Linked DNA regions of Homo sapiens: all the other regions are reported to be linked to region 1. Evidence: microRNA targets listed by miRTarBase, many of them from high-throughput screens and not tested one by one. Region 1 holds a microRNA gene; each other region holds the end of a gene's coding sequence.

Region 1 (4,077 bases):
ACACTCACATTCCTAACAGCATTATTCACAACAGCCAGGAGGAGGAAGCAACCCAACTGTCCATCAATGGATGGCTAGATAAAATGCGGTATATACATACAACGGAATATTATTCAGCCTGAAAAAGGAAGAAAATCCTGTCAACAACTACAACATGAATGAACCTTGCGGACTCTACACTGAGTGAAATAAGCCAGTCGCAAAAAGACAAATACTTCTATGAGGTTTCTAACATGATCAAATTCACTGAAACAGAAAGCAGCACGTTGGTCACAAGGGGCTGGGAAGTGAGAGGAAAGGGGAGCAGTTGTTTATTCGGTATAGGATTTCAGTTTTGCAAGACGAAAGTGTTCTGAAGATTTGTTTCACAACAATATGAATACATTTCACACTCCTGAACTGTACATTTAAAGATGGTGAAGATGGCAAAGGGGTCATACTTTTGAAACTAGTATCTACAAATAAAGATAGGGTAATGTCCTTTTATAAGGGCTAGTGAAACTATTAGATTTTAATAGAGTGGCAACAAATGAACTGGTAACTAAACTCATAAATGGACAGTATTATTACATAATCCACTTTCATTCTGAAATCTCTGCAGAAATAAAACACTGCATTAGAATAAGCTTATTTATTGCAGACAAAATATACAAATCACATGACTCAACTTACTCAAGTCTCTAAAGCCAGCCTAATCTTGGGCCCCAGTTTTTCTCATGCACAAGGAAAGCAGATGAGTTCTCTGATCCCGTAAGAAATAACTGCAGGGGTTTAGACTGGTATGAAGTCTCTATGGACTAGCAGTGTCATCTCAGATCCCACACACCTTAGAATCATGAATGAACTGAAACCACTATGGACCTGAATACCTGGGCTCTGATTATAATCAAACCATATCCCGTCTACTCAAAAAATTTTCAAACTTAAGCACAAAAAACTGGAATACAAAAGCAAGTTTTCAAATTGCTCTCACCTAAATCACAGAGTGAAATTAAGCAGACTTTATCTTCCTTTATACAAAAATAATCACCAGGTATGTTTTGGGAGTAAATTTTAAACAAATGTGCAGTTCATGGACTTTTGTTAAGATACAACTTTAAATATTTAGCTCTAAAGAAACAATACATCAGCTGAAATTCAAAATTAGTAAAAACTTTTCTGCTTTCAATAATTTTTAAATCTTTAAGCCATCCTTCAAAGATACTACCAAGTATCTATCAGCACTAGACCAATGATTTCTATATTACATTGCGAGTATCAATTATAAAATGCACTATTTCATGTGTCAGAACACAGAAACACTGTCAATTAAAAATGACATATACCAGATATTGAAATATTTAACAGTTGGTATTTTAGAACAAATATAATACAGTACGTACATGCTTGTCCCTCTGAATAATCCAAAAGTACAGGAACCTAATCTATGTATCAACTACAGGGGGGGACACCAAACCCCTAGAGACTCAAACTTTTTTAAATGCATGAAAAGTCAATATAAACTACCAGTTCAAAGAATCAATCAATAAATGATCAATGCAGACTGAAAATCCAAAGACACTTGGCACCCCAAACAGATAACTAGATAACTCACTGCGGCCTAAACAAGTGATTTCCAAATTAAGGAAGTGAAAAATCTAAGCACTCAATGACTCCAAACAGCTCAGGTGGCCAAGACCCCTGTTCTCCTTTAATCCAGTGGTCCACAGGTACCAACTCAGAAGACAGAGTGCCACTTACTGAGAGAAAAAACCTTTCAGTAAGTGGCACTCTGTCTTCTGAGTCGGATTTTTCTGCAAACACTATGGACACAATGAACTGGTTTAGCTTAGGGCAGTTTACAAGCTTAAAGTACATTTATGACACTGTTTCAAAACAATGGTAGAGTTGCAAAATACAAAGAAAATCTTATCAGACTAAACATTTTCAGACTAAGTATTAAAAGTTATTCAGGAAACACAAGAGAATGTATTTATTCCGTAGTATCAACAATTATAGCATGGAAACACACAGAACCTCTATTAAACGTTATCTATTTCAAAACTCCTAAAATCTATTACTTGTCTTACACCAAAATGTGATATAGTACCACATCCTATAGAACATTAAATATAAGTAAATTTAAATGTCAAAGTAAATTCACAACCAATGAAATTAGAAGATTCACAAATATAAACTTAGTAATTAGGAAGCTAACTCTAGGCCAGACGCGGTGGCTCACGCCTGTAATCCCAACATTTTGGGAGGCCGAGGTGGGTGGATCACGAGGTCAGGAGATCGAGACCATCCTGGCTTACACAGTGAAACCCCGTCTTTACTAAAAATACAATACAAAAAATAAAAAATTAGCCGGACGTGGTGGTGGGCACCTTTGGTCCCAGCTACTCAGGAGGCTGAGGCAGGAGAATGGCGTGAACCTGGCAGGCGGAGCTTGCAGTGAGCGGAGATCTCGCCACTGCACTCCAGCCTGGGTGACAGAGTGAGACTCTGCCTCAAAAAAAAAAAAAAAAAAAAAGAGAAGAAAGCTAACTCTATCAAAGTTCAATTGTACGTAAGAATAGACACATTCAAAACAGGCAAGGCAGAATAGGTCAAAAATGTCTCTGAACACAGCAAACCCATCCCCAATCTAGACAGAAATATAAATGTAGATTCTGTTATTTCACTAACGATTTAATTTTCTTAAGTTACAGCCATCACACAAAGAAAAGTCTGCAGTCTATCTATCTGCCTATCTATACATATATGTATATATATATCTCTATACTGTTGCGAAAAAACATACTTTTTTTGCAACAGTAACTGCACCAAATTACTAGGCTCAATGTTGATTTAGAAAACAAATAACTAAAAAATGCTTTTTGCTGTTTTTCCAGAGGAATCCAATTTGATCATCCATTCGGACCTTAAACCTCAGAAATTCAAATGTGTAAAAAATGTCCATCAATGTAAACAAAAATGGCAAAATGTGAATTTCTGGAGCTGGGTAACAGTTAAAAGGCAGTTCATTACACTGTGCTATGTATCCTTATGTTTTTAAAAGTCTATTAAAATGTTACATTTTTCAAAATTGTTCAGGTGCATCAAGTGGTCTTTACAAAAATCTTTCATTCTAAAACCGTAGAGAGCATCCATTTATCAATAATGTACCTGACAGGACACACTGACTTGAAAGTAGTCTTCAAATCACACCAACAATTATTCTATCAACAGATAGATGTAAGGCCATATCTGACTGGAAGTTACTGAAGAAATAAATGTAATATAATTAAGTATATGTCTTCTTATGTTAAAATGTTATATAGTTGATAACTAAAACAAAAAAAAAAAACTTCATTCTTAGAATTGGAAGAGACAAACTTTCTAGTTCGGTGGTTTGCAAACTTTTTGAGGTACCTGGACAAAAGAGCCAGACAAGTCACCTTGTTTTATACATAGGAGATTATACACAAAATATGAGATGATGCTTTTAAAAATGATTTATCTACTTAAAAAAGGCTTTAAACCCATTCTGTCATTTCAACAGCTACATTCTACAGCTAATATGGTGGCATAGAAAAGATTAAATGACTTGGGATATATCATTCAATTAGTGGCAAAAGAACTCAGGACTCTTATTTTTCCAGTTCTTTCAAACAATGCACCACTTCAAATTAAGTTACAATTAAGAATAAAACTTTCCATTTTCTTGCCTGTAAAATACGGTTACTAGACAAGATCATCTCTAAGATTATTTTCCAGGTCTAAAATTCTGACTCCATGAATGCCAAGCTCAAACAGAAATCTACATTAAGGGAATGAATGTTCTTCAACACAGCAGAACCCTTCACACGCTTTCAATGACTTCAGAGACATGCCAGTCAAATACAGAAACAAGCTCACAGTAACTCAGTCATACCTTTTAGGTCCTTAAACATCTGTGCAACATCTTTTAATAGTTAATGCTATTAAGATGTGAAACAATGTTCTCAAAAGCCACTGAAATAATCCTGAAAGTTTTTTGGTTACTAGTTATTTTAAGAAAGGACACTGGCCTATGAAAAACACACAACTCACTGAAGATGTTCAAGTTACCGA
Region 2 (4,077 bases), not on the chromosome of region 1:
CAAGTCAGCTCTGAATGGGAAGCCAAAAGAGAATAGAACCAGGACTCAAGATTAGGGGAGCTGGGATTTCCTTATTCCTCTGTCCCCATGCCCAACCCCAGGCTCTTCTGAGAAACTGTGAAGAGAACCACTTACTGGATCTGTGGGATCCCCCAGTGGAAAGGGCAGTGTGGGTCACTCCAAATGTCCATAGGGAGGATGTGGGGAAGGTGCTATTCATCTTCCACTAATCACATATTTGTTTCTTTTTGTTTTCAGGGCAATTCCTTGAAGAGCTACGTAAGTTCTCTTCTCTCTGTTATAAGCAGAGAATAAAAAGCCAGGAAAGGGAGACAGAAGCAACAAGAGGAAGAGGCGGGCTATTGAGGGATCACATTCCCAGAGGAAAGGAGGAGCTGGAGAGCCTGGGTGGAGGGAAGACTCCTCCTGGGAGGTAGAGGGCAAAGAAGCCAGCTGTTAGAGACACATTTACAGGTGGCAGAGAAGCTGGAGGCACTCCTATCTGCCACCTGATCCATTCCTCCTTCACTGCCCCTAAGCAGGAATCCAACCCTAGCTGGTCTCATTGCCCATTCCACAGCAACTGCCCAGTGCCTCACCTCTCAGATCAACCATTGAGGCAGGAATGGAGACAAGATGACCCCAAGGGCTTTTCTTCTCCCTAGTTCAATGGTTTTATGATACAAACTACTGACATACGTTTTTCAAGTTATTTTCTCCTTCTTCTAGGAAATCCCTTCTGAGTGATGTCACATCTTGGCAGGGGTGGAGGAGAGCCTGGTTGCCCAGGGATTTGTCCTTGGGGACATCTCATCCATCAAGTTGCACACTCACTGGCATCTTTGCTATGGGGACATTCCAATTTGCACTTTCAGGAACACTCTGAATTCCAAGTAGAATTGATTTCCCTTCTTCTGTCATCTACCTTTTCTCTTCATTTTCCCATTTTTATTACCCTTCTTTCCATTTCTCTCTCCAGTCTTCCACCTGGAAGCCCTCTCTGGCTAAGGACAGGCAGGTGCCCCTCTCTCCATCAGAGGACACCTGTACTGGAGAGCAACACAGGATGGTCTCTGCCATGAACTGGAGGCCAGGAATCTCCTCACTGAAAATTACAGTATGGTAACTTTGCAAATGGTGGTTGTTTCTTCCAAGACTCCAGCCCTGATTGCGCAAAACTGAAAGGCATGTGAAGGGAAGGAAGAGGAAGAGTGCAAAACATTGAAGAGAGAGCTGAGTGAGCTGAAGAGTGAGGATATGAGTAGCCCCAACCCAAACCTGGAGATGGGGAGAAACCTACAGAATACTAGCCAGAGCTCCTCCTTGTCTTGGCAGCCTACTAGGGACCTGGGGAAGCAAAAACGAAAGCTGGGCAACATGCCTGCTTTAGAATGTTTTCCTTCTACTTACACATCTTCCACAGGTCTCAGAATCTTTCCTTCCTCTCATCCTTTTCTCCTATCTTCATATCTATCAGAGTATCCACTGTTTATTCAACAACTACTACTTGATGGTCAGACACAAACAAACAAGCTAGGTGCTAATTAATAAAGATACGAGTTTTGGCCGGGTGCGGTGGCTCACGCCTGTAATCCCAGCACTTTGGGAGGCCGAGGCGGGCGAATCACGAGGTCAGGAGTTCAAGACCAGCCTGGCCAACATGGTGAAACCCCATCTCTACTAAAAATACAAACAATTAACTGAGCATAGTGGTGGGCACCTATAATACCAGCTACTCCGGAGGCTGAGGCAGGAGAATCGCTTGAACCCAGGAGGCAGAGGTTGCAGTGAGCTGAGATCGTGCCACTGCACTCTAGCCGGAGTGACAGAGTAAGACTCTGTCTCAAAAATAAATAAATAAATAAATAAATAAATAAATAAATAAATAAATAAAAAATAATAATACAAGTTTTCATAAGCACACTTCTAACCCCTTGTCTTTTATGTATTTCCTTCCTTATCCACGCACCTGTCTCCCTCTACTCCAGCCTCATTACCCCAGAGGTCAGTCCTCAGGAAAACTAAACACAAAGAAAGAGCTCAGTCAGAAAGGCCATTTATTTATGTTTCAAGATGCTCACTGCCTCCTTTGTTTTGTCTCCTTTGCAGGCCTTCTCTCTTAGGCCTCTTCTCCTGGGGGTATGGATCCTGGGGGGAGATTGATCACCTCCATGCTTCCATTCCTCCCCAGCCATAGTGGGGACATCATGAGAGAAGCCAAGCCACTGGCCCAGGATCACCCGGCATTTATGGTGGCTGCTCTGGCACAGGTCCTTGCCTTTATAGCCCCTCCAGTGATCCATAAGGCCCTCTTTCTCCCCAAAGGAGAGGTCACAGATAGGGCAAAGGTAGCTCTTCTGCTTCCAGTGGGTCTGCTGGTGTCTGACCAGCCTGGAAAATGAGCTGAAAGACTTGCTGCAATGGAAGCAGTAGTTGGGCGGCTCTGTGAGGTGGGCCTTCTGGTGTCTGGAGAGATAGGATTTCTTGCTAAAAGTCAAAGAACAATGGGGGCAACAGAAGACATTGAGTCTTGAGGGCTTCACTGGATGAGAGTTGGATCTGGCATCCTGACAGAGGGTTCCAGTGATGGGTGCCTGGGTCCTGGTCACAGGTGCTTGGTTCTTAAGTACAGATGCCTGGTTCTGGGCCATAGGACCCTCAGTTCTAAATATGGGTTCCTGGGACCTGGCCACTGGTGCATGGTTCACATCCAAAAGCCCCTGGATGGACCTCTGGCTTCTGGCGATGGGTGTCTGGAATTCAGCCTGGGTGCCTGGAATCCTCAAAGTACACTCCTGGTTTCCATCCACTGGCTCCTGGTTTTGGTGTATCTTCTGGTGGCGTTTGAGCTCAGACTGGTCCCGGAAGCTCTTCCCACACACAGAGCATGAATGGGGCCGGTAACCCAGATGGACGCGGCGGTGACGACTTAGTCCAGAAGCATCACAGTAGGTCTTGTCACAGAGCGTGCAACAGAAGGGCCTCTCCCCAAGATGCATGCGTCTGTGATAGCTGAGGGACTTGGGGCTCCGAAACAACTTCCCACACTGACTGCAGCTGTTAGTCAGCTTGGGATTGTGAACAAACTGGTGGCTATAGAGGTAGGAGCGCCTGCTGAAACATTTGCCACAGGTGTAGCAAAAAAAGGGTGGCCCAGCCTGGGATGCTTGAAGCACCCGGGTCCTGTCCATAGTCCCAGCTGGGGCAGATAGGGGGCACTGGCCGGCCCCTCTGCATGCAAGGAAGACCTTGTCATCACTAGTCCCCTCATCTCTCAGACTGGGATGTTGTTCTCGAAGCTCTTTCTTCTTGCCTTCTACAGTGAATGAGGAAGAATAACACAAAATTCACTGTAAGAACTCCAACAGAGGCTTGGCATGGTGGCTCACACCTGTAATCCCAGCACTTTGGGAGGCCGAGGCCAGCGGATCACCTGAGGTTAGGAGTTCGAAACCAGCCTGACCAACATGGTGAAACCCTGTCTCTACTACAAATACAAAAATTAGCTGGGCGTCATGGCATCTGCCTGTAATCTCAGCTACTAGGGAGACTGAGGCAGGACAATCACTCGAACCCGGGAGGCGGAGGTTGCAGTGAGCCAAGATGGTGCCACTGCACTCCTGCCTGGGCAACTAGAGTGAAACTCTGTCTCAAAAAAAAAAAAAGAAAGAAAGAAAAAGAAGAAGAAGAAGGAGAAGGAGAAGAAGGAGAAGGAGAAGAGAAGGAGAAGAAGAAGAAGAAGGAAGAAGAAGAAGAAGAAAAGAAAAGAAGAAGAAGAAGAAGACGAAGACGAAGAAGAAGAAGAAGAGGAAGAAGAAGAACTCCAACACAGCACTCCATTCAGCCTAACACACTTCTTGTCTCTGCCCTTGCTCTCCCACCCAACACATTCATCCTTACCCTTGGGCCTCATAGGCTAGAAATAAGAAGAAAAAAAGAAAAAATTGGCTTTTCAAATTAGAAGCAAATAAAAAGTTAACTGGAATCTTTCAACACTGTCAGAAATGTAAATTTTAACTTACAACAACACTTCTTGAAATCTATCTTATCTCATTCTCAATATTGCTCAAACTCCCA
Region 3 (4,077 bases), not on the chromosome of region 1:
ATTCACACGGCCTAGTATAAGATAAAGCGTATGTACTTGACTTTGCCATATCAGCAATTAGGGCAAGTTTAGACATATAACTTAGCATTTTGTGTAAATCATCAGAAGGCCTTTATTGTCCTATTTGTAGATGTGGAAAAATCTAGAATCCCTTCTGTTTAATTAGTGTATTTCAGTTTGGTTAAATCAAAGTCTTACATGTGGAGTTCATTGGAGTAAACTTTTGAGTCCTTCTAACAATCAGTTTCTTCAACTATGAGGTTAAACATACAAATCATTCTAGCACAGAAGTATCAGTGTGTATACTTTTAAGTGCTGGTGATAAGAACCACTGCATGGATCTGTGGTTGAGGTTTCCACAGCCCAGAAGTGGAAAGTTAGAGTGAACAAAGGGACCATGAACTCGCCATCCTTGAGAAGACTGGCAGAGTTCTACCTTTCTATTGCTGCTGACAAAGGGAGCTGGAATCAGTTTCTTACACCCACACAAATATCCCAGTTCTTTCACAACATCAGATAAAATGCCTAATGCCATTAATATATAGGTTCATCACCAGTAAGAACTGCCCTGCTGTTTGTTATTACATGAGTAACGCTTGTCATGTGTTTTAACCGGGCTCCTTGCAAAGAATCAGTTTTCATTCACCAATTGTTTTGAATCCTGGTGGCAAGCCCAGCTCCCTTTTGTCTGAGATGTCCCCAGTGTGACCTGAGGAACCTGGGCAAAGGCCCAGCGAGAGGGTCTGGAAGCTCTAGACAAATCACCCGAGTTCTCAGACTGCCCAGAAGTCTGTGAGTACAGGAAGAGGGAGACTCTCCTCAGGGATTCCCAAATCTGGCTATCAAAGTCATTGGAGAGCTTTCAAAAAGTCCAAGCTCTGAGGCTACACCCTGAAGGTTACACATTAGTAATTTATTATTAAATTTATCGAGTGCTTACAGCAGACCAGGTCTCTTATAGGTTCTTTATAGAAATTATTGATTCATGGAACCCTCACAGCAATCTTATGTGGTAGGTACCACTGTTTCTCAGATGAAGGAATTGAGGCACAGAAAAGTTCTTGCCTGAGTTTGTGCAGCTAGGGAATGGCAGAGCCAGGATTCTGGCCCTAGAACACACATTCTTAACACTATGTTGCTCTGGGTCAGTTGAGAATGTAACATAGGCGGTCTGCTTCCTCCCATCCACCTCAGGTCTTAGCATAAAGCATATGTCATATAGCAATAAAGCTGTCATTAAAAGGAAAAGCAAATGCCAGTTGTCAGGAGTTAGGGATGGCAGAGGGCAGGGGAGTGGGTTGACTGTAAAGGGGTACTGGAAGGGGGTCTTTGAGGTGCTGGAAAGGTTCTATATTTTCTCTATAGTGTTGGTTACATGAATATACTCATGATAAAATGGCATCACACACATTGTACCAATGTCAGCTGCCTGGTTTGATATTGTACTACCGTTTTGTAAGCGTAGCCACTGGGGAAAATGGGTGAAAGGTACACAGGACTGCTCTGTACTATTTTTGCAACTTCCTGTGAATCTATATTTCAAAATAAAAAGTTAAAAAAGCCTACGCCTACTTTTGGCAAGCCTCATATCCATTAGAAGCCTGCCTCTTTAAGACTGATGTAAATAGAGATTGTTCTTGGAAGACAAACCTCATTCTGCTTAGGGTAAGAAAAGCACTCTCAGCCGGGTGCGGTGGCTCACGCCTTTGTAATCTCAGCACTTTGGGAGGCCGAGGCGGGCGGATCACGAGGTCACAAGATCGGGACCATCCTGGCTAACATGGTGAAATCCCATCTCTACTAAAAATACAAAAAATTAGCCAGGCGTGGTGGCAGGCGCCTGTAGTCCCAGCTACTCGGGAGGCTGAGGCAGGAGAATGGCATGAATCAGGGAGGCAGAGCTTGCAGTGAGCCGAGATTGTGCCACTGCACTCCAGCCTGGGCGACAGAGTGAGATTCCGTCTCAAAAAAAAAAAAAAAAAAAAAAAAAAAAAGAAAAGCACTCTTAGTCTGGGCAGAGCAGGGGCACAGGGTAGTGGTGGTAACAGGAGCTGAGCAAGGTCACCAATAGCAGAGTCAAGCACTCTGCTGACTACATTACACCATGGGGACTGGAACCAGTTCCTTATGTCTTGCAGTGATTCCCAGATGACTAGTGCCCAGCTGTCTAAATGGGAACCCTGGGGAAAGAGCTAAATGAACACAGAATCTGTGCCCCACGCCTGGGAACCCTGGGGAAAGAACCAAATGAACACAGAATCTCTGCCCCACGCCTGGGAACTCTGCCTCAGTAGGTCAAGGACAAGGTCTGTTAGGTTACATTTTAAAAGCTCCCCAGGTGATATGAGCTTGAGAACTTTAGATTACAGAGTAGTGATAAAGCTGAATCTCCAATAACATCACATGAGTCAGCCACCACGGACACTGTAAAACAAGCCCTTGGTTTTCATAGGGTTGGTATGGCTCAGAGAGATAAGGATGATGTTCATGTCATATATGAAAACATCCAAAGTGTAGATACTCTTTCTGAATGCTGGTATAAACAATGAAATATTACAATGAATTGCTTTTTCTTCTGCATCATTCCTATTTGGTTACTTACCAAGTTTCTCCTAGGAGTACATGTAGTTACAAACAAGAACATAATTCTATTACAAATGTCTTAGGCTATCAGGTGTGTTGCTAAATTAAGAATTTTTTGTCCACAAGTAACAAAATTCTCAACCAACAGTAACATAAACAACACAACACAGGGCTCTGTTAGTCTCCTATAATAAGAAGTCCAGAGTAGGTGGTTGCTGGTATTGGTCCCGCAGCTCAAGAGACTGGGGCTGACATCTCTGCAGTACTTGGCCTTTCTTTTTTTTTGAGACAGTCTCTCTCTGTCGCCAGGCTGGAGTGCAGTGGCGGCATCTCGGCTCACTGCAACCTCCGCCTCCCGGGTTCAAGAGATTCTTCTGCCTCAGCTTCCCAAGTAGCTGGGACTACAAGTGCATGCCACCATGCCCAGCTAATTTCTGTAGTTTTAGTAGAGACAGGGTTTCACCATGTTGGCCAGGATGGTCTCAATCTCTTGATCTTGTGATCCACCTGCCTCGGCCTCCCAAGTGCTGGGATTACAGGCGTGAGCTACCACACCTGGCCTCAGCCTTTTCTTTATGGCCACAAGATGACAGCTGTAGCTCCAGCCTCTCCACATTCCAGACTGGATGAAGGGGAAGGGGCAGGACCACTGGCGTTCTATTCCTGTCCCACTGGCCAGAACCATCTCTCATGGCCACCCGTGGCTGCAAAGGAGTCTAGGAAATTGAGTACCACCCTTTCACAGTCTCTATGACAGAGACAGGAAAGGAAGATGGGGAGGGATTGGGTGTAGATGAGGCAACCTACAGTGTCTGCCACGGCTTTCAAATTACAATTTATCAAGTACTTTTTAATTAAATCCACAAACAGCTGATCAGATACAAAGTAATAAATTATCACAGAAAATATTGATATGAAAATCAAGCATAAGGATCTCCACTGTCAGTAATTCTACACATATGTATTGGTCTTTCATTCTGTGTTGGAACTAATTCTAGTTGTTTAAGCACTTCTGTTCCTTCAATCAGTTGCCTACATAGGAGAAAAAAATGGAAAATTTAGTCAGTCATAAGTTTTCATATTTAGCTTAACATTCCGAAATGGGGTCCTACCCAGCTATAGCTAAGACTATTTCCTACAAATTGAATGAACATCAGCTCTAAGTATCCTAAACCTCTCTGGATGTGTGCACTTTACCACACCTGCAGTATCCAGGGCCATCATCCAGGCAGCTGGCCTCCTGCCGCAGCTCTAAGCTGGCTTCCTCCATCTGCTTGGCACCCTCCCCTCTGTTTTTCTCCCTGCAGTCAGGGTGATTTTTTTTTTTTTTGAGACAGGGTCTCACTCTGTTGCCCAGGCTGGAGTGCTGTGGCATGATCTTAGCTCACTACAGCCTTGACCTCCTGGCTTAAGTGATCCTCCTGCCTCAGCCTCCTGAGTAGCCAGTGCTTACCAGGTGTGTGCCACTAGGCCTGGCCAATATTTTTGTTTATT
Region 4 (4,077 bases), not on the chromosome of region 1:
AGCCAGCCAGTTGATTGACTTTGAATTACGAGCTCTTATGCCCCGGGCATGTCCTGTCTCATTGCTCTCTTTCTGGCACAGACCAAGTACGATGCAAACCAGCAAGCCAGGAAGCACCTCCTCCCCGTCACCACAGCAGACCTGAGCAGCAAGGAGCGTCACCGGAGCCCACTGGAGAAGCCCCACAACGGCCTCCTCTTCCCCCAGCACGGGGACTATCAGTACGGCCGCAACAACATCTTAACAGACCACTTCCAATACAGCCGGCAGAGCTACCCAAACTCGTACAGTTTGAACCGCTATGATGTGTAGAGTCCAAAGGACAGGACCAGACTGTTGGTGACTCCTTCCCCGGCCCCCACAGCAGTATCAGAAACTTCTGACAATCAGTGAATGTACAACCCAGCCGAGGGGACGGTGCATAACTCTCCATCAGAAGCCCTGGGGTTCCTGGCCCCCCGTGAGCCGCAGGAGGATGCGTTGCCTGCAGTGCAGACGGCCGTGAGCTCTGGGCAAACCTAAACAGAGACCAGTGTCTCATGCTCTTTCTTCCTGGAGTCTGTCATCTGAGGGCCGTGTCCCTGCGGAGATCTTGGCCACGTTGTACCTTTCCATGTGGAATTATTCCCCAAGCAGTGTAGCTCAGAGCACTTGTGTCTGCATTCCAGATAACATTCAGGACCTGTGTGAAAAGCTGGGGTCACTGTGGCTGTAGACCATGAACTGGCAGTGGGGGTGTCCAGGGCGGTGCTTGAGAACGTCAGACTGGCTAGTTTAATTCCCTGGCGCAGATACGCATAGGACCAACAGGGTCACCAAGCAGACAGGGAGCCCGCGAGAATCATTCAAAACATCCCCAGCCACAGAGATGGATCCAGTTTCCTGGTCATCCCCTTAGCAGTTCACAAGTTCCTGGCAAATGTTCCAAAGCAAAAAGCGATTGCAATTAGCATCCAGTTCCTGCAGCCTGGTGCTCTGCCCTGCACGTCAGGGTTGGCATCCACCCAGATCCAGATGGAAGGGAAACTTCTCTCTTCTCCTTTGCCTCCTCTTCCCTCACCAGAGCAGGGCGCTTCTCTTGGGGTGGTGAGAAGGATCTTCGAGAAATCGTGTTCAGTATTTCAAGCTCTATTTCTGTGGCACATGTCTTTTGAGAGGCATCTTCACCTCTTCTGTGATGACTTGGTATGTTGTTTGGTAGAGAGATCTTGATTTTCGGAGGATCTTGCATTTTTCTAGGGAATATTTTGTAGTTGTGTGTGTGTGTTTTTGCCTTGGTCCCCATTATGGGATGCATTAGGACTGGCCTATGCATCGAAAATCTTTTTGTTTGTAAACGTTTAAAAACAAAGTTCCCCGGCCAGGCACAGTGGCTCACACCTGTAATCCCAGCACTTTGGGAGGCCAAGATGGGCGGATCACGAGGTCAGGAGTTCGAGACCAGCCTGGCCAACATAGTGAAACCCCATCTCTACTAAAAATACAGAAATTAGCCGGGCATGGTGTCGCGTGCCTGTAGTCCCAGCTCCTCAGGCTGCTGAGGCAGGCGAATTGCTTGAACCTGGGAGGCAGAAGTTGTGGTGAGCCGAGATTGTGCACTCCAGCCTGGGTAACAGAGCGAGACTCCATCTCAAAAAAAAAAACAAAACAAAACCAAGTTCCCACTGGTGATGCCTGTCTGACACGTTTTGGTATTTAGTAGGAAATGAAGTGTTTCGAAGCTTCGAGAGAAGCTTCAAAATTGTCACAATTGCTGAAAACAGAATGAATCGTGAACATTATCTCAATATTTTGTATAATAGACAAGACCACAGTGTTTTGGTTCCCTGACCTGTTTTTGTGTTTATGTTAGGATCTGAATCATGTTCTGGGTAAGGGGACGAGGAGCGAACACTGCACTAAGATTTGGTTTGCCAAATCAGATTCTTTGGTCAAGAGTCAGTTTGGGGCCAGGCGTGGTGGCTCATGCCTGTAATCTCAGCACTTTGGGAGGCTGAGGTGGGTGGATCACTGGAGTTTGAGACCACCCTGGCCAACATGGTGAAACCCCATCTCTACTAAAACAAAAATTAGCCAGGCATGGTGGCACCTGCCTGTAATCCCAGCTACTTGGGAGGCTGAGGCAGGAGAATCACTTGAGCCCAGGAGGTGGAGGTTTCAGCGAGCTGAGATCACACCACTGCACTCCAGCCTTGGTGACAGAGTGAGACTCTGTCTCAAAAAAAAAAAAAAAAAAAAGGAATCAGTTTGGGTCTTGGCAGAAATCAACATAAGGAATATGACAAGACCCCAGTAGGTAACCCTGAGTGCTCAGGTCCGAGCTGTGGTCTCTTTTACGGCTTCATGAAAGGACCGTGCCCTCACGGAGGGGACCACGGCTTGGCTTGTGGGGTCTTAGGTGATGGCTGCCTTCTTTCTTCATCACCACACCCAGCTTCTTGCTGGCACTTAGGGGAAGAGAGCAGCAAATGAGAGATTTACCTTTTATCTCCCAGCGAGCGAGATGTTTCCCTGTTCAGAGAGGAAGTAACATCACTTATGCTTGACTGGTGTTTCTTTTGTTGTTGTTTGTTTTTCTTTCAATTGGAATTCTGTATTTAAGATGTTATGTCAGCTGACACATGGGACACTCCTGAAGAGGTGACTGGCCCCCCACCCTGTTTGGCGGTGAGTTTCCGCACCACCGGCCTCAGAAGTGTCCCTCTTGCTTCGTCTCTTGTTCGCTTGCTTTGTAAATACTTTGGTCCCAAGCTGAGACAATTGCTGTGTAAAACGTGAAGAGTCAATCCCAAAGGGTGTTATTTGTCAGAAGAACTTGCCGTGTGCCTTCACCGAAGGCAGTCAAGTCTGCAGTTGGATTTTTCTCACTGGTGAATGACAAGAAACAGGGATAATTTTGCACTGCGGAGATATTACGGGAGTTGTCTATATGATTATATATAGTACCTGATTCTTTGAACATATTATTGAACTCCAAAATGAATTCGACCTCCATTCAGGCTTCCTGAAATCTCTGAAGTTGCTGAAATTTGTATATTATTTTCCTTTTCCAATGCAAGATCTGCTGGTGACGGGAAATGACTGTCTGGTTTTATTATGGTTTATAAATTAATAAATGGGCTATTTAATTCTGTATATAAATTTACAGCAAGTACGTACACTGGAATGAATGAGGCAATCACGTTACACCAAATCAGCAGATCAAAAGACAAACACATATTTCTGAGACTTGAAGGTCCACATCCCCCCGCCCCCTGCCAAGATGGAGTCTTGCTTTGTTGCTCAGGCTGGAGTGCAGTGGCGCAGTCTCAGCTCACTACAACCTCCATCCCCCGGGTTCAGGTGATTCTCGTGCCTCAGCCTCCCGAGTAGCTGGGATTACAGGCATGCACCACCACGGCTGGCTAATTTTTTGTGTTTTTAGTAGAGACAGGGTTTCACCATGTTGGCCAGGCTGGTCTCGAACTCCTGGCCTCAAATGATCCGCCCACCTTGGCCTCCCAAAGTGCTAGGATGACAGGCATGAGCCACCGTGCCCAGCCTGATTGACAATGGCCTCTTGAAGGCTGGGTTTTCCCAGCCGGACAGTGCCCGCCCCACATGCTCCACTCCCACGCTTTCATCTGCAGGCCTGCCTTCCTCTCAGCCACCTCACTGCTGAGCTCTGTGGTAGAGAATTTCCTTTACCCATCAGGGTATGGTCTGGCTGGTAATACTGACTCCAACCCAGCTCCTTCATTTTATAGAAGGAGGCATTTCTGAATCATGTTTGTTCACCATGGCGAGACTCACTGCAGAATTTTTAACCACCTTATTTTAAGTCATTCATTCTAGGAACAGTCAAGCCCCTACCACAAAGGGGCCAGATCCGTTCAAGTGAGGAAGCACTTGCAGTTTCTGAATTTTGCTGTATATTTGTCCTATGTCACCCAACAGGCCCTTTGCTATAGCTGGGACATTACCAGACCCCAATACCTTAGGGTCTCACAGCCTGAAGGACACAGAGCATTGAATTATTAAAAGACCTGAAAATATTATAATGTTTTTCAATTGTCACCTGTTTTCAAGACTTAAATG
Region 5 (4,066 bases), not on the chromosome of region 1:
GTTCAAACCTGCAGTGAGCTATAATAGCGCCACTGCACTCCAACCTGGGTGACAGAGTGAGACCCTGTCTCAAAAAACAAAAAAGTACAAGGACCCCAGGTTCACGGTTCCCTCATGGCTGTTATTCCAGTGAAAGGGGAACTCTGTGCAGCTGAAGGCAGTGGTGGCTGACCAGCAGACCCCAGGGCGAGGAAGACTCATCATCCTTCTGGAAGGCACTGGGGAGCCACACCCCACTGGGCCCCCTCACCTGCACTTGTGCTTTGGGAAGGTGGCCCTACCTGGGTTTACATTGCCAGTCTGGAGTTCCTTCATGATGCCTGTGGTGTGGCTCCCATATGCTCTGTCCCCTCAGCCGCCTCGTGCCTGGCCTGGCCCCTTCTCGTCACTTCAGGTCATTTTCTCCAAAAGTCCCAGGAAATAGGAAAGAAAAACGACTTTGTTTATTTACTCTCTGTTGCCTTTTGGACCCCGATTCCTGGAGCAGTATATTGGGTGCAAGGGGGCCAGGAAGAGGCTCTGGTATTTGTGTCATCTGAGAGAGATAAGGGCCCCTGACTTGGGGTTAACACTCATTTCCCAGCTGTCAGGTCACGGGGATCAGAGAAGGAGGCATGAAAGGAGAATACCTCAGAGAAGGTGGTTTTGTTTTTGTTTTTGGTTTCTGTTTTTTAAATGGAGACAGGGTCTCGCTATATTGCCCAGGCTGGTCTTGAACTTCTGGGCTCCAGCCCTTAGCCCACCTCGACCTCCCAAAGTGCTGGATTACAGGAGAGAAGACGTTTTTTGCTATTAGAAGAACCCTAGTGCTGAAACCCCAGAGTTGGGGGGAAGGGTACTAACCTCTTGGCTTTTAAGGAGGGACTCACTCCGGGGGCAGGTATATGCTGAGTGTATAGAGAGGCAGAGAGGCATGGGCTTTGGAAATCAAATGCTCCTGGGTTCCAATCCTGTTTTCCCCATATTCCCAAGTGGTGTGCCCTTGGCCAGGTTGCTTAACCTCCCTGAACCTGAGTTGCTGCCCCTACTTAGTTGACAAATATTTACTGAGCACCAATCTAGGCACCAGAAGTGACCAGTCCAAGTCCTGGCTCACATGGGGCACGTGGCCATGTCTGAGAACATGGGGATGAGAATGCCTGCCTTGTGGGAGCAGGTGGGATGCTTAATCCAGGTAACCTCTAAGTGCCCCTTAGTGTTTAAATGAGAGTGACTAAAAATAGATGGGCTGAGGGGAGGATACCTTCAGCCCGGGAGCTGGAGACCAGCCTGGGCAACATAGCGAACCCTGTTTCAAAAAAAGAGAGAGATGAATAGATGGGTGCTTTTTGGGAGGAGGGTGATCCTGTCCGCTGCTCAGGTTGGGGCCCCTAGGAACGGGGAAGGGAAGCAGGCATGGGGAGCAGTGGCCAGGAAGCCCCTGAATGCCTGGGGTCCTGTGGTGGGGGAGGGGGTGGGGCTCCACCTGCATGCAAGATTTGCTTCAGGACCACCCCTCCCCCCACTTCCAGTGAACCTGGCTAGACTGAGGTCATAGGTCACCACTAGGACCCCATGTCTGGGCTTTCTCGGAACGACTCCCTGCCAAGGAACCAGAGCGCCTCTAATAGCCTGGAGCCTCTAAAAGCTTTGACCACAGCTCAGCTTGCTCCCTGCAAGCCCTTTGAAGCGCTTCCTTCGAACTTGCTTTGCATATTCTGGTCAGATCTGAATCAGACTTGCAGGAATTACCCCTCTCGGTAAGTCTAGGTGGCTGCCTTAGCTTGTCAGTGACACACGAGGCAGGCGTGCTGACGTAAGGCTGAGACGTATTCGATTCCACCCTCTGCGGCTCTCTTCCTCCTCTCCGATGCAGAGTGTGGGTGTGGGTGAAAGAGAAAGCAAGGCACGGGGCGGGGGGCGGGGGGGCAGGGGTGCAGAAAAGGCTCAAGTCATGTTTTTCATTAAAAAATAGTGCTCTTTATTATAAATTACTGAAATGTTTCTTTTCTGAATATAAATATAAATATGTGCAAAGTTTGACTTGGATTGGGATTTTGTTGAGTTCTTCAAGCATCTCCTAATAGCCTCAAGGGCCTGAGTAGGGGGGAGGAGAGAGGACTGGAGGTGGAATCTTTATAAAAGACAGAGTGATTGAGGCAGATTGTAAACATTATTAAAAAACAAGAAACAAACAAAAAAATAGAGAAAAAAACCACCCCAACACACAACTGCCCTGTCCAGCCCAATACCTGACACAGAATACTTTGTGTTTGTTTAGTTGCCCCCCCCCACAAAAACAAAAACAAAAACAAAAACAAAAAACTGTTCCAGGTAATTCCATCGCTGCTACATTCCTGTAAATTGTCACTGATCAGTGCTATGGCAGAGCGGGAGCACCCGGGGTGGCAGCAGTCCAGCCTCTCCAATGACCTCCAGCCTCCCCCACCCAGGCAGGAGGGAGGGCTGTGCAGGGCTCGGGGCAGTGGGACCTGGTGGCTCTGCTCTGACCACGAGGCGCCTGACTGGCCAATACTTACTGGGCTGACATTCCCAGTGCTCAGCTGGGAGGCATGGGTTTCCGCCCCCCCTCCCCACTTCCCTGGCTGTGGGCTGGCTTGGTGCCCTCCAGTGAGTCCCTCAGCCTCTCCACCCATCCAGGCTGAGTATGTGGCTTTCCTATGCTGGGTCCCTCTCCATGGGACAGGGAGCATTTAAGGCGAATCTCTTAGCCAGACATAGTCAGGAGGCACAGAGTAGAATCCCCTGTCTTCTCTACCAGGAGCCTGAGGTGAAAGATGTCCCGTCTCCTCCATCCTCCCGCTCCATCCACCCAGGTACAGGAAGGTATAGTATGAGTAGGAAAAGGAGACCAGCTGACCAGCCCATCCATCCCCTCCAAATGTTGCTTCCCCCTTAAAACGGAGGAAGGGCCCTGGGCTCTCAGGCACCAGGTAGACTTTGGAACCTGTGTTTTCGGTGACTGTCCCGGAGGAGAGGATGTGGGGTACCAGGATGGTTCCCTTCAGGTCACCCCAAGCCCTTCTCCCCGGAGCCAGGGAGAGGAGCATGTCACCAGGATCCTCGCCTGGGGTGGGCGGGGGGTGTGACCATTTCCTTCGCCAGCCCGCAGCCCTGGGGCCCTCAGGACCTCTCTCTCTTCCACCTTTCCCAGGCTCCACAACCAGCTCAGGTTTAAACCAAATCAAAGAGCAAACAAGTTCCGTTGGAAAGTTTGAAGATTCCCTGGCAGTTCTCATTAGTTCAGCATTCCCGAAGTGTCCCCTGTTTGGAGGCAGAGGGGAAGCTGAGGAATTGAAGGAGAATCCACTTGTGGTTGCTATCGTCCCACCAGGACAGCTGGCTCCTCCGGAGAAGCTGGAGACTCAGGTGGTACTCCCCCTTCCCTCCAACACATTCCAGGTCCGCCTGCCACATTCTGCAGGGAGAGGGCAGAGGGAGGGGCCTGTCCGCCCTCTTTCCCCCCAGAGCTACAGGACTCTCTCCTGGTTGGCTTCTTGTGCTTGTGCCATGTGCCACGGAGGAGAGGGGCCTGCGTCCCCTCTCCCGACCCATGCCCTTTGCGCCCTTTACCCCTTAAAGCGGGGCATCGTACTGGTCCAGGAACTCCCGAATGGGCCCCGGCAGCTGGGTGACTTTCTCATAGGAGTCCAGGTGGCCGTTGACGGTCTTCCGACAGAGATGCTGAAGAGTGGCCACGTTGGAGGAGAGGGGCCGGCTCAACACCAGGGGGATCTTCTCGCCCCCGGAGTAGATGTAATAGGCTCTTCTGGGGGGACTCCCAGGGAGTGGCTGGGCAGACGGCTGCTCGGGCACCTCGGAGGAGGGTTCAGTAGGTGGCGAGGGGAAGGAGGGGGCTCCAGGGGGCGGCATGTAGTGGTGCACCAGCTTGAGCACGCAGTCGAAGCGGGGCACGGGCTGCGTGCTCCGGGGATCGCTCTGCAGAGAGAAGCTGCCCCCCTCACACTGGATGCGCAGGTTCTTGGTCCCAGACTGGGTCTTGACGCTGAGCGTGAAGAAGTGGCGCTGGTCCGAGCTGTCGCGGATCAGAAAGGTGCCGGCGGGC
Region 6 (4,000 bases), not on the chromosome of region 1:
ATTGTTTTGGCAATTAGTCCAGGCCCTTTGTATTTCCATGTAACTTTTTAGAATACATTTGTAAATTTTTATTTAAAAGATTAGGTTTTTATTAGGATAGTTAAAGGAAAACTGACAACTTCAAAGTATTAAGTCTCAGATTCAGGAACTTCTTGTGTCATTTATTTATGCCTTGTTTAATGTCTCTCAGGAATGTTTTAAAGTTCTTGAACATATTTTGTTAAATTTATTTCTAAATATTTCATATTTTTATGCTATTGTGAAGTACATTTTTTCAGTTGCCAAGCATGTATTTGCTAGCTATATACCAACCTAGTAGAGACACCTACTTTTTATACACTGGCCTTTTTATCTTAGGACCTTGCTAAACTCAATTATTAGATCTAGTAGCTTTTTAGTAGATAATTTCGAATTTTCAACATTATCATGTCATATGTAAATACAGACAGTTTGGGTTCTGCCTTTACAATCATTAGATTTTTTTTTTAATGAGAAGTGATGAATGTTGACGTATTTATGTTATTCCTAATGTTGGGGAAAATCAGCTTATCAAATATTTGATCACATATATATCAAATGTGCTGTTAGCTGTTTTTCATAGATGTGCTGTATCAGGTTGAAGAAATCACCATCTTGTTTAATTTGTTGCATGTATCATAACCTAGTTTTGAATTTTGTAAAATGCTTTTATTACATTTTGAGATTTTCATTTTAGTCTGCTAATATAGATTAATAAAGAGTTTGAATTGTTGAATCAAACTTGTATTATTGATAAACCTCACTAGGTTATGATTTATTATTGTTTGTATATGGCTGGATTCAATTTGCTAAATGTCTTTTTGTTTTGTTTTAGCATGAGTGCAAGTTTATTTAAAAAGGCTTTAGAACAGGAAAGAAAGGCAAGTATGCTTGGAAGAGACCCAAGGGGGTGATTTGAAGGACGAGTGCCTCAATTTGCTAAAATTTTCTTAAGGCTCTGTGTCTATATTCATGTGATTATTGGTCTATAGTTTTGTTTAATGTCATTGCCTGCTTTAGTGTCCTGTTAATGCTAACTTTCATATAGTCCAGAATTCTTTGAACCTTTGTCCTCTTGGAAGTTTGTATACAATTGGTATTACTTCTTCCTTTTTCATAAAAGTTCTTATATATCCTAGGAATGACCCTCAGCTGATGCCATCAAGAAAAAGGAATCTCAGTCCTACAACCACGAAGAACTTAAATATGCTAACAACTGAAATAAGCAAGAAACAGATCCTCCCTGAGACTCTAGAAAGGAACATAATCATGCCAACACTTTGATTTTAACCCAGTGAGACTTCTGTTATATTTGTGTTGTTTAAACCATAAGTTTGTGGTGATTTGTCAGGATAGCAATAAAAAGCTAATATGTCAACATTATTCTGTGAACATTTATTTATTTTCCAATGCAGTATTTCCTCAAATCATGTTGTACCTTTTCTGCCACAACTTGAAAACAGCCTCTTCTCTAAGGAGTTCTGGTTCCTTTTATTAAAAAATGATATAAACCAATAACTGGGTATTAAATGTGCTCAAAACTACTGGAATGCCATGGCTTGCTAGGCTCTCAGTAAAGATAGGGAATATGTACACATTTATCTATATATTGAATTATTTATTTGTAGTTAAACCTACAAATATTTCAGAAGTTGGATATTTAAAAAGATTCATAAGATTACAGTAGCATACTCACATAAGGCTTTTTTTTTTTTTTTTTTTTTTTTTTTTTTTTTTTTTTTTTTTTGAGACAGAGTCTGGCTTTGTGCCCCAGGCTGGAGTGCAGTGGCGCAATCTCGGCTCACTGCAAGCTCCGCCTCCCGGGCTCACACCATTCTCCTGCCTCAGCCTCCAGGATAGCTGGAACTACAGGCAGCCGCCACCACGCCCAGCTAATTTTTTGTATTTTTAGTTGAGAGGGAGTTTCACTGTGTTAGCCAGGATGGTCTCAATCTCCTGACCTCGTGATCCACCCGCCTTGGCCTCCCAAAGTGTTGGGATTACAGGCGTGAGCCACCGCACTCAGTCAAGGCTTTTATTTATAGGCAAAGATATGGTATAGTAAGAGGATGCAACACCAAATGCACAATGAATAAAATAACAAATGGATAAATTGGGCTCCATAAAATTAAGACAATCTGCTCTAGGAAAGATACTGTTAAGAACTGAAAACAAGGCCAAGCATGGTGGCTCATGCCTGTAATCCCAGCACTTTGGGAGGCTGAGGCAGGATGATCACTTGAGGCCAGGAGTTAGAGACTAGTCTGTGCAACATAGCACGACCTCATCTCTAAATTTTAAAAAAGAAAAGAAAACAAAAGCCATGGACCATGAGAAAATATTGACAATGCTTATATCAAATAAGGAATTTGTCTCCAGAAATATTAAGAACTTGTAACCAACCAAATGTTTTAAAAAACAGGCAAAAAATACATTTGACTAAAGAAGATATATGGGTGACAAGTAAACACATTAAAAAATGCTCAAAACTGAGTCATCGGAAAAATACAAATTAAGAACTACAATGAAATACTACTTCACACTTAGTAACATGGCTAAAATGAATGGCCTATGACTTCTACACATATAAACTGTCAGTAATGTGAAGAAATGGAAAATCTAATATATTCCAGGAGGAAATATGAAATGCTAACCATTTAGAACACAATTTGGCAAGTTCTTAAAATTTGAAACATTTGGATCAACTTACAGAATAACTGAATGAGGAGCTTTGCAGACCTGTTACACAGCCAAAAGGGTGAAAATTATAAAAACACAATTCAGTCTCTGGAAATGGTCATAAGGGTGTATGGGAAATAAATATTTATTAAAGAAGATCTAACATTCACAAGAACAGCAAAAGTGAGTCACATTTGAACCAAGACCACTCCTTTCCTCCCCCAACTCCAAACTCAGCGAGATCAAAACTCCATTCGACGGGTACAGCCAAGAATACAGGGCTCCCTCTCTCTGGAGCTCCAAGGCAGAGGGCTGTCTTCTCAGGAAGGACAATCTGTCAGGAATTCTCATCTTGCCTCCAGTGTGCATATTTAGATGAATGATGTTCAATTGCCAGCTCCCTCATAAAGGCCATCCTCAGAGTTTCTGTTTTAAGTGAGGTCATATTGATTCAGAGACAGTACATAACCTGTCACCCTAAGGCCTTTCTCCAGTGTAAACTTTCTGGTGTTGAATAGGGTTAGGCCTTTGGCTGAAACCTTTTTCCATATTCACTACATTGTCCACATTGTAAACTGTCCAGTGTTGAATGAGACTGGAGGTGTGGCTAACGGATTTCCATCTGTTACCTTCAAGATTTTTTCCACTGTGAACTTTCTGGTGTTGAATGAGGTTGAAACGCTGGCTAAAGGATTTCACACAATCACTGCATTTCTCCAGTGTGAATCCTTCGATGTTTAAAAAGACTGGAGTTGTGGCGAAAAAACTTCCCACATTCCCTGCACTCATAAGGCTTTGCTCCAGTGTGAACCCTCTGATGTTTAACAAGGCTGGAATTCTCTCTAAACAATCTCCCACATTCATTGCACTTAAAAGGCTTTTCTCCAATGTGAACTTTTCGATGTTGCATGAGGGTTGAGCTTTGGCTAAAAAATTTCCCACATTCCCTGCACTCATAAGGCTTTGCTCCAGTGTGAACCCTCTGATGTCTAACTAGGGTGGAATTCTCTCTAAAGAATCTCCCACATTCATTGCACTTAAAAGGCTTTTCTCCAGTGTGAACTTTTTGATGTTGCATGAGGCTTGAGCATTGGGTAAAAAATTTCCCACAGTCGCTGCACTTGTAAGGCCTTTCTCCAGTATGAACACGCCAATGTTTGATAAGGTTGGACTTGTGGCTATAGAATTTTCCACATTCACTGCACTTATAAGGTCTTTCTCCAGTGTGAATTCTCTGATGTTTCATGAGGCTGGAGTTGAAACTAAACAATTTTCCACATTCACTGCACTCATAAGGCCTTAC
Region 7 (4,077 bases), not on the chromosome of region 1:
GGGCCGAGGGTGCAAAGGGCCCAGTTGACCCTTTTAAGTGCTTTTTTCTGTAAATCACGGGAAACCAAGGAGCACCCTGTTTAGATGTCTGTTGTAACTAGCAGCAGCAAGTGGAATGGATGAAAGAAAAGAGGGGACTGTTTTCTCAGTGGCTTCAGGCTAGCCCTTTCCCCTCTGTAGCCTGCAGTTTCTCCGTTTGCAAAATGCGGTTGGACCATATCATGTCATCCAACACTGGGCATAAACAGCCCATCCCGTTAAGCTGTACAGTTGACTCCCCTTTCTGGTGCCTTGGCTTGTCTTTGAAATGTGCGTTTGCTCCCGTAGGAAGAAGATGGACTGCGGATGAGGAAGACAGTGCAGAGCAACAGCCCCATTTCAGCATTAGCCCCAACTGGGAAGGAAGAAGGCCTTAGCACCCGGCTCTTGGCTCTGGTGGTTTTGTTCTTTATCGTTGGTGTAATTATTGGGAAGATTGCCTTGTAGAGGTAGCATGCACAGGATGGTAAATTGGATTGGTGGATCCACCATATCATGGGATTTAAATTTATCATAACCATGTGTAAAAAGAAATTAATGTATGATGACATCTCACAGGTCTTGCCTTTAAATTACCCCTCCCTGCACACACATACACAGATACACACACACAAATATAATGTAACGATCTTTTAGAAAGTTAAAAATGTATAGTAACTGATTGAGGGGGAAAAGAATGATCTTTATTAATGACAAGGGAAACCATGAGTAATGCCACAATGGCATATTGTAAATGTCATTTTAAACATTGGTAGGCCTTGGTACATGATGCTGGATTACCTCTCTTAAAATGACACCCTTCCTCGCCTGTTGGTGCTGGCCCTTGGGGAGCTGGAGCCCAGCATGCTGGGGAGTGCGGTCAGCTCCACACAGTAGTCCCCACGTGGCCCACTCCCGGCCCAGGCTGCTTTCCGTGTCTTCAGTTCTGTCCAAGCCATCAGCTCCTTGGGACTGATGAACAGAGTCAGAAGCCCAAAGGAATTGCACTGTGGCAGCATCAGACGTACTCGTCATAAGTGAGAGGCGTGTGTTGACTGATTGACCCAGCGCTTTGGAAATAAATGGCAGTGCTTTGTTCACTTAAAGGGACCAAGCTAAATTTGTATTGGTTCATGTAGTGAAGTCAAACTGTTATTCAGAGATGTTTAATGCATATTTAACTTATTTAATGTATTTCATCTCATGTTTTCTTATTGTCACAAGAGTACAGTTAATGCTGCGTGCTGCTGAACTCTGTTGGGTGAACTGGTATTGCTGCTGGAGGGCTGTGGGCTCCTCTGTCTCTGGAGAGTCTGGTCATGTGGAGGTGGGGTTTATTGGGATGCTGGAGAAGAGCTGCCAGGAAGTGTTTTTTCTGGGTCAGTAAATAACAACTGTCATAGGGAGGGAAATTCTCAGTAGTGACAGTCAACTCTAGGTTACCTTTTTTAATGAAGAGTAGTCAGTCTTCTAGATTGTTCTTATACCACCTCTCAACCATTACTCACACTTCCAGCGCCCAGGTCCAAGTCTGAGCCTGACCTCCCCTTGGGGACCTAGCCTGGAGTCAGGACAAATGGATCGGGCTGCAGAGGGTTAGAAGCGAGGGCACCAGCAGTTGTGGGTGGGGAGCAAGGGAAGAGAGAAACTCTTCAGCGAATCCTTCTAGTACTAGTTGAGAGTTTGACTGTGAATTAATTTTATGCCATAAAAGACCAACCCAGTTCTGTTTGACTATGTAGCATCTTGAAAAGAAAAATTATAATAAAGCCCCAAAATTAAGAATTCTTTTGTCATTTTGTCACATTTGCTCTATGGGGGGAATTATTATTTTATCATTTTTATTATTTTGCCATTGGAAGGTTAACTTTAAAATGAGCCCTATCACTGAGAAATACGTGTTTCATGATTTAACTCTGTGTGTGTGTGTGTGTGTGTGTGTGTGTGTGTGTGTATTTTTTTTTTGGTTGTCTTCAGCTGACAGTATGAAAAATGAAACTGCTGAAAAAGCTGAGCACCTGGTCACCCTTGGCCTTCCATTGCTTTGGCCTTCAGTAAAAAGCAGCCTCCCTTCTAGGTCAGGGAACCATGCCATTGAGACTAGTAACGGGCGTTCTGGGCACAGTCCCACTGTGCACAGGTTTGAGAGGACAAGTTCATCAGAAGGAAGGCAGTCCTTAGAAGTCACATACGTTGAGCCACGTTGCTCCTAAGCCTGGCTCTGTCAAGCTGGGTCAGGGGCCTTGAAACTGGAGAAGTGGAAGTCTATGGTTGGTCTGAGTAAGTAACTTCCTGTCTTCATGAAAAAAGTTGACTTTGAATCCCAGGTACTCACAGAAATGGTGAACAGACTTAGTTGTTACCCAGGCACCCATGGATTGTGTTGAGTGTGCAGACAGGGAGGCCACCCCAATAGGAATTCGTCTCCAGGATTTTTCCCATGTGTCCCCCAGTACTTATAAAAGGGAGTGAAAAGACCGAGCTGTAAGGCATGTGCCTTCTGCCACCTGACTTTCCGTGAGGGGACTAAAATTTACTAATTGTAGTTGCTGCAGCCAGTTAAGTCCTGTAGCTTCCAGGCCCTCATGTCTTTGATAGGAGAGTGCTTAGGTGGTCCCCAACAGTGCCTAGGGGTACAGTACAGTCCCATTACACTAGAGCAGGGCTCTATTTATTTTTAAAGGATATGGCCGTGTGTTTTGATAAAACTTTATTCACAAAAACAGCCGGGTCATGGGATTTGGCTTGTGAGTCTGTAACAGTTCTTAAAAAGAATATCTGAGAAACTACTCTGTTTTAGACCTTTGAAGGTGATTTAGAGTTTTGTGTACATCTAGGAGAAGGTGTTCAGCTTCTCAGAGGATGTGGACATTTTGGTTGCAGCTAAAAATCAGTCTCTGAAGTCTCTCTCCCTTCTAGAGGTTAGGACTTGGTGAACATGTTTGTGGGCCTTTTGACTGAGTGGCAGAAGGAAACTGCTCAGGAAGAGAAACAGGTGACTGATGGGAAGGTTGATTATTTTCTCAGTCATCCTGGCAGCCAAAAATGTGCCAGGAAAAGAAAGAATGTGGAGCACGCGTGGCTCCTGGAGGACTTGGAGATGCATGCACATTTAGGGTGTTTTCCCTAGAATTACATAATGAAAAAAAGAATAAGGCAAAGAGGAGGTGAATATGGGGCCTGTCACAACGGCCTGCCCTGCCCCAAGAGGGTTAAGAGTCAGATAATCGGGACGAAACTGGCATGGAAAGAGCGAGCCTAGGGAGGATGCCGCTGGGCAGTGTGCATGGGGGAGCTGCTGCCAGGCTGCCCTCCAGTCTGCTCCTGTGGTTACTGGCTCCACAGCACCTCAGAGAGGGCGGCCCTGGCTTCAGAAATGCCAGCCATAGTGCTCACAAATGCAGAAGAGATGGAAGCGGTGACAGAATCCTGAAAGTTTTTATTGATTGAAGTTTTAAATTGGTAACTTAAGCTTCCTTGGCACGATACAAAATACCTCTTAAAGACAGCAGGCTTTTTTATTTGTAGGTGTGAGGAACTGGCTTTAACTTTTTTCTCCTCCTAGTTTGCATGTTTTCCTTCTCTCGTCTTCTGAACTGCTGGCACCAGCAGTAATACATACTGATAAAATCAAAATTGATTTTTACCAGTGGCCAGTTTATGGCTAGAGAGACGACTTATACCTCCATAACACAGAAGGGGGAAAAATGAAGAACCTCCAGTGATCCGTGAAAACCTAAACGCTTTCAAACAAATCCCAGGAACAGAATTGCTATCGAAAGATATCATTGCCCAGTTTGCAGGCTATGTTGAGTCAGATAGAACTGAATGTAGTGAGAGCTCAGAGCTACAGAGCCTTTCAGATGAATTTGAAAACAGACTCTGTGTGTGTGTGCATGTGTGCATGTGTGCATGTGTGGCATATGTGCCGTATGTCAGTAGCTTGACAGTTTTCAAATCGTGCCTATATTTTTTTGCATACACAAATTTTTGTGTTTGCAAACTCAGAATCCATGCCAAAATACAATGTTATATGTCATTTTCAGCTCCTTCTCTAAA

Evidence for each region. The annotated mature microRNA hsa-miR-4797-5p reads GACAGAGUGCCACUUACUGAA and lies in region 1 at 1,756-1,776, opposite strand. An mRNA with a match to its seed (bases 2 to 7 or 8) in the 3' UTR can be bound and repressed. Matches are read on the target gene's strand: a 7mer-m8 pairs with bases 2 to 8, a 7mer-A1 pairs with bases 2 to 7 and ends in A, and an 8mer does both.
Region 2: miRTarBase lists MOG as a target of hsa-miR-4797-5p. Seed matches in the 3' UTR shown: 7mer-m8 at 1,836-1,842.
Region 3: miRTarBase lists PPIL6 as a target of hsa-miR-4797-5p. Seed matches in the 3' UTR shown: 8mer at 2,365-2,372 and 7mer-m8 at 1,946-1,952.
Region 4: the mRNA of SLC35E1 is a reported target of hsa-miR-4797-5p. Seed matches in the 3' UTR shown: 7mer-m8 at 2,209-2,215.
Region 5: miRTarBase lists SOCS3 as a target of hsa-miR-4797-5p. Seed matches in the 3' UTR shown: 7mer-m8 at 2,731-2,737 and 7mer-m8 at 2,125-2,131.
Region 6: miRTarBase lists ZNF419 as a target of hsa-miR-4797-5p. Seed matches in the 3' UTR shown: 7mer-m8 at 1,769-1,775.
Region 7: the mRNA of VAPB is a reported target of hsa-miR-4797-5p. Seed matches in the 3' UTR shown: 7mer-m8 at 1,270-1,276, 7mer-m8 at 1,932-1,938, 7mer-m8 at 2,807-2,813 and 7mer-m8 at 3,898-3,904.

Annotation. Positions count from the first base shown.
Region 1 is chr3:197,292,164-197,296,240 of GRCh38, forward strand. It overlaps MIR4797 (microRNA 4797), which reads right to left and starts at 1,785; the gene lies at 1,715-1,785. All of the region lies in intron 3 of DLG1 (discs large MAGUK scaffold protein 1), which reads right to left.
Region 2 is chr6:29,670,443-29,674,519 of GRCh38, forward strand. It overlaps MOG (myelin oligodendrocyte glycoprotein), which reads left to right. Exons shown (of 8, transcript NM_206809.4): 7 at 259-279; 8 at 730-1,923. The coding sequence ends at 743. ZFP57 (ZFP57 zinc finger protein) reads right to left here. Exons shown (of 5, transcript NM_001109809.5): 5 at 2,041-3,316. The coding sequence ends at 2,058. Among named protein-coding and RNA genes, the nearest start is that of ZFP57, 8.7 kb to the right of the region's middle.
Region 3 is chr6:109,389,323-109,393,399 of GRCh38, forward strand. PPIL6 (peptidylprolyl isomerase like 6) reads right to left here. Exons shown (of 8, transcript NM_173672.5): 8 at 893-3,615. The coding sequence ends at 3,504. Among named protein-coding and RNA genes, the nearest start is that of CD164, 8.9 kb to the left of the region's middle.
Region 4 is chr19:16,549,914-16,553,990 of GRCh38, reverse strand. SLC35E1 (solute carrier family 35 member E1) reads left to right here. Exons shown (of 6, transcript NM_024881.5): 6 at 82-4,077. The coding sequence ends at 312. Among named protein-coding and RNA genes, the nearest start is that of CHERP, 9.5 kb to the right of the region's middle.
Region 5 is chr17:78,354,842-78,358,907 of GRCh38, forward strand. It overlaps SOCS3 (suppressor of cytokine signaling 3), which reads right to left. Exons shown (of 2, transcript NM_003955.5): 2 at 1,937-4,066. The coding sequence ends at 3,577. Among named protein-coding and RNA genes, the nearest start is that of SOCS3, 3.2 kb to the right of the region's middle. RefSeq lists enhancers at 1-240, 564-613, 1,439-1,938, 1,996-2,645 and a silencer at 1,673-1,860.
Region 6 is chr19:57,493,491-57,497,490 of GRCh38, reverse strand. ZNF419 (zinc finger protein 419) reads right to left here. Exons shown (of 5, transcript NM_024691.4): 5 at 1,393-4,000. The coding sequence ends at 3,401. Among named protein-coding and RNA genes, the nearest start is that of ZNF773, 4.4 kb to the left of the region's middle.
Region 7 is chr20:58,443,750-58,447,826 of GRCh38, forward strand. It overlaps VAPB (VAMP associated protein B and C), which reads left to right. Exons shown (of 6, transcript NM_004738.5): 6 at 328-4,077. The coding sequence ends at 486. Among named protein-coding and RNA genes, the nearest start is that of VAPB, 57 kb to the left of the region's middle. RefSeq lists an enhancer at 2,728-3,229.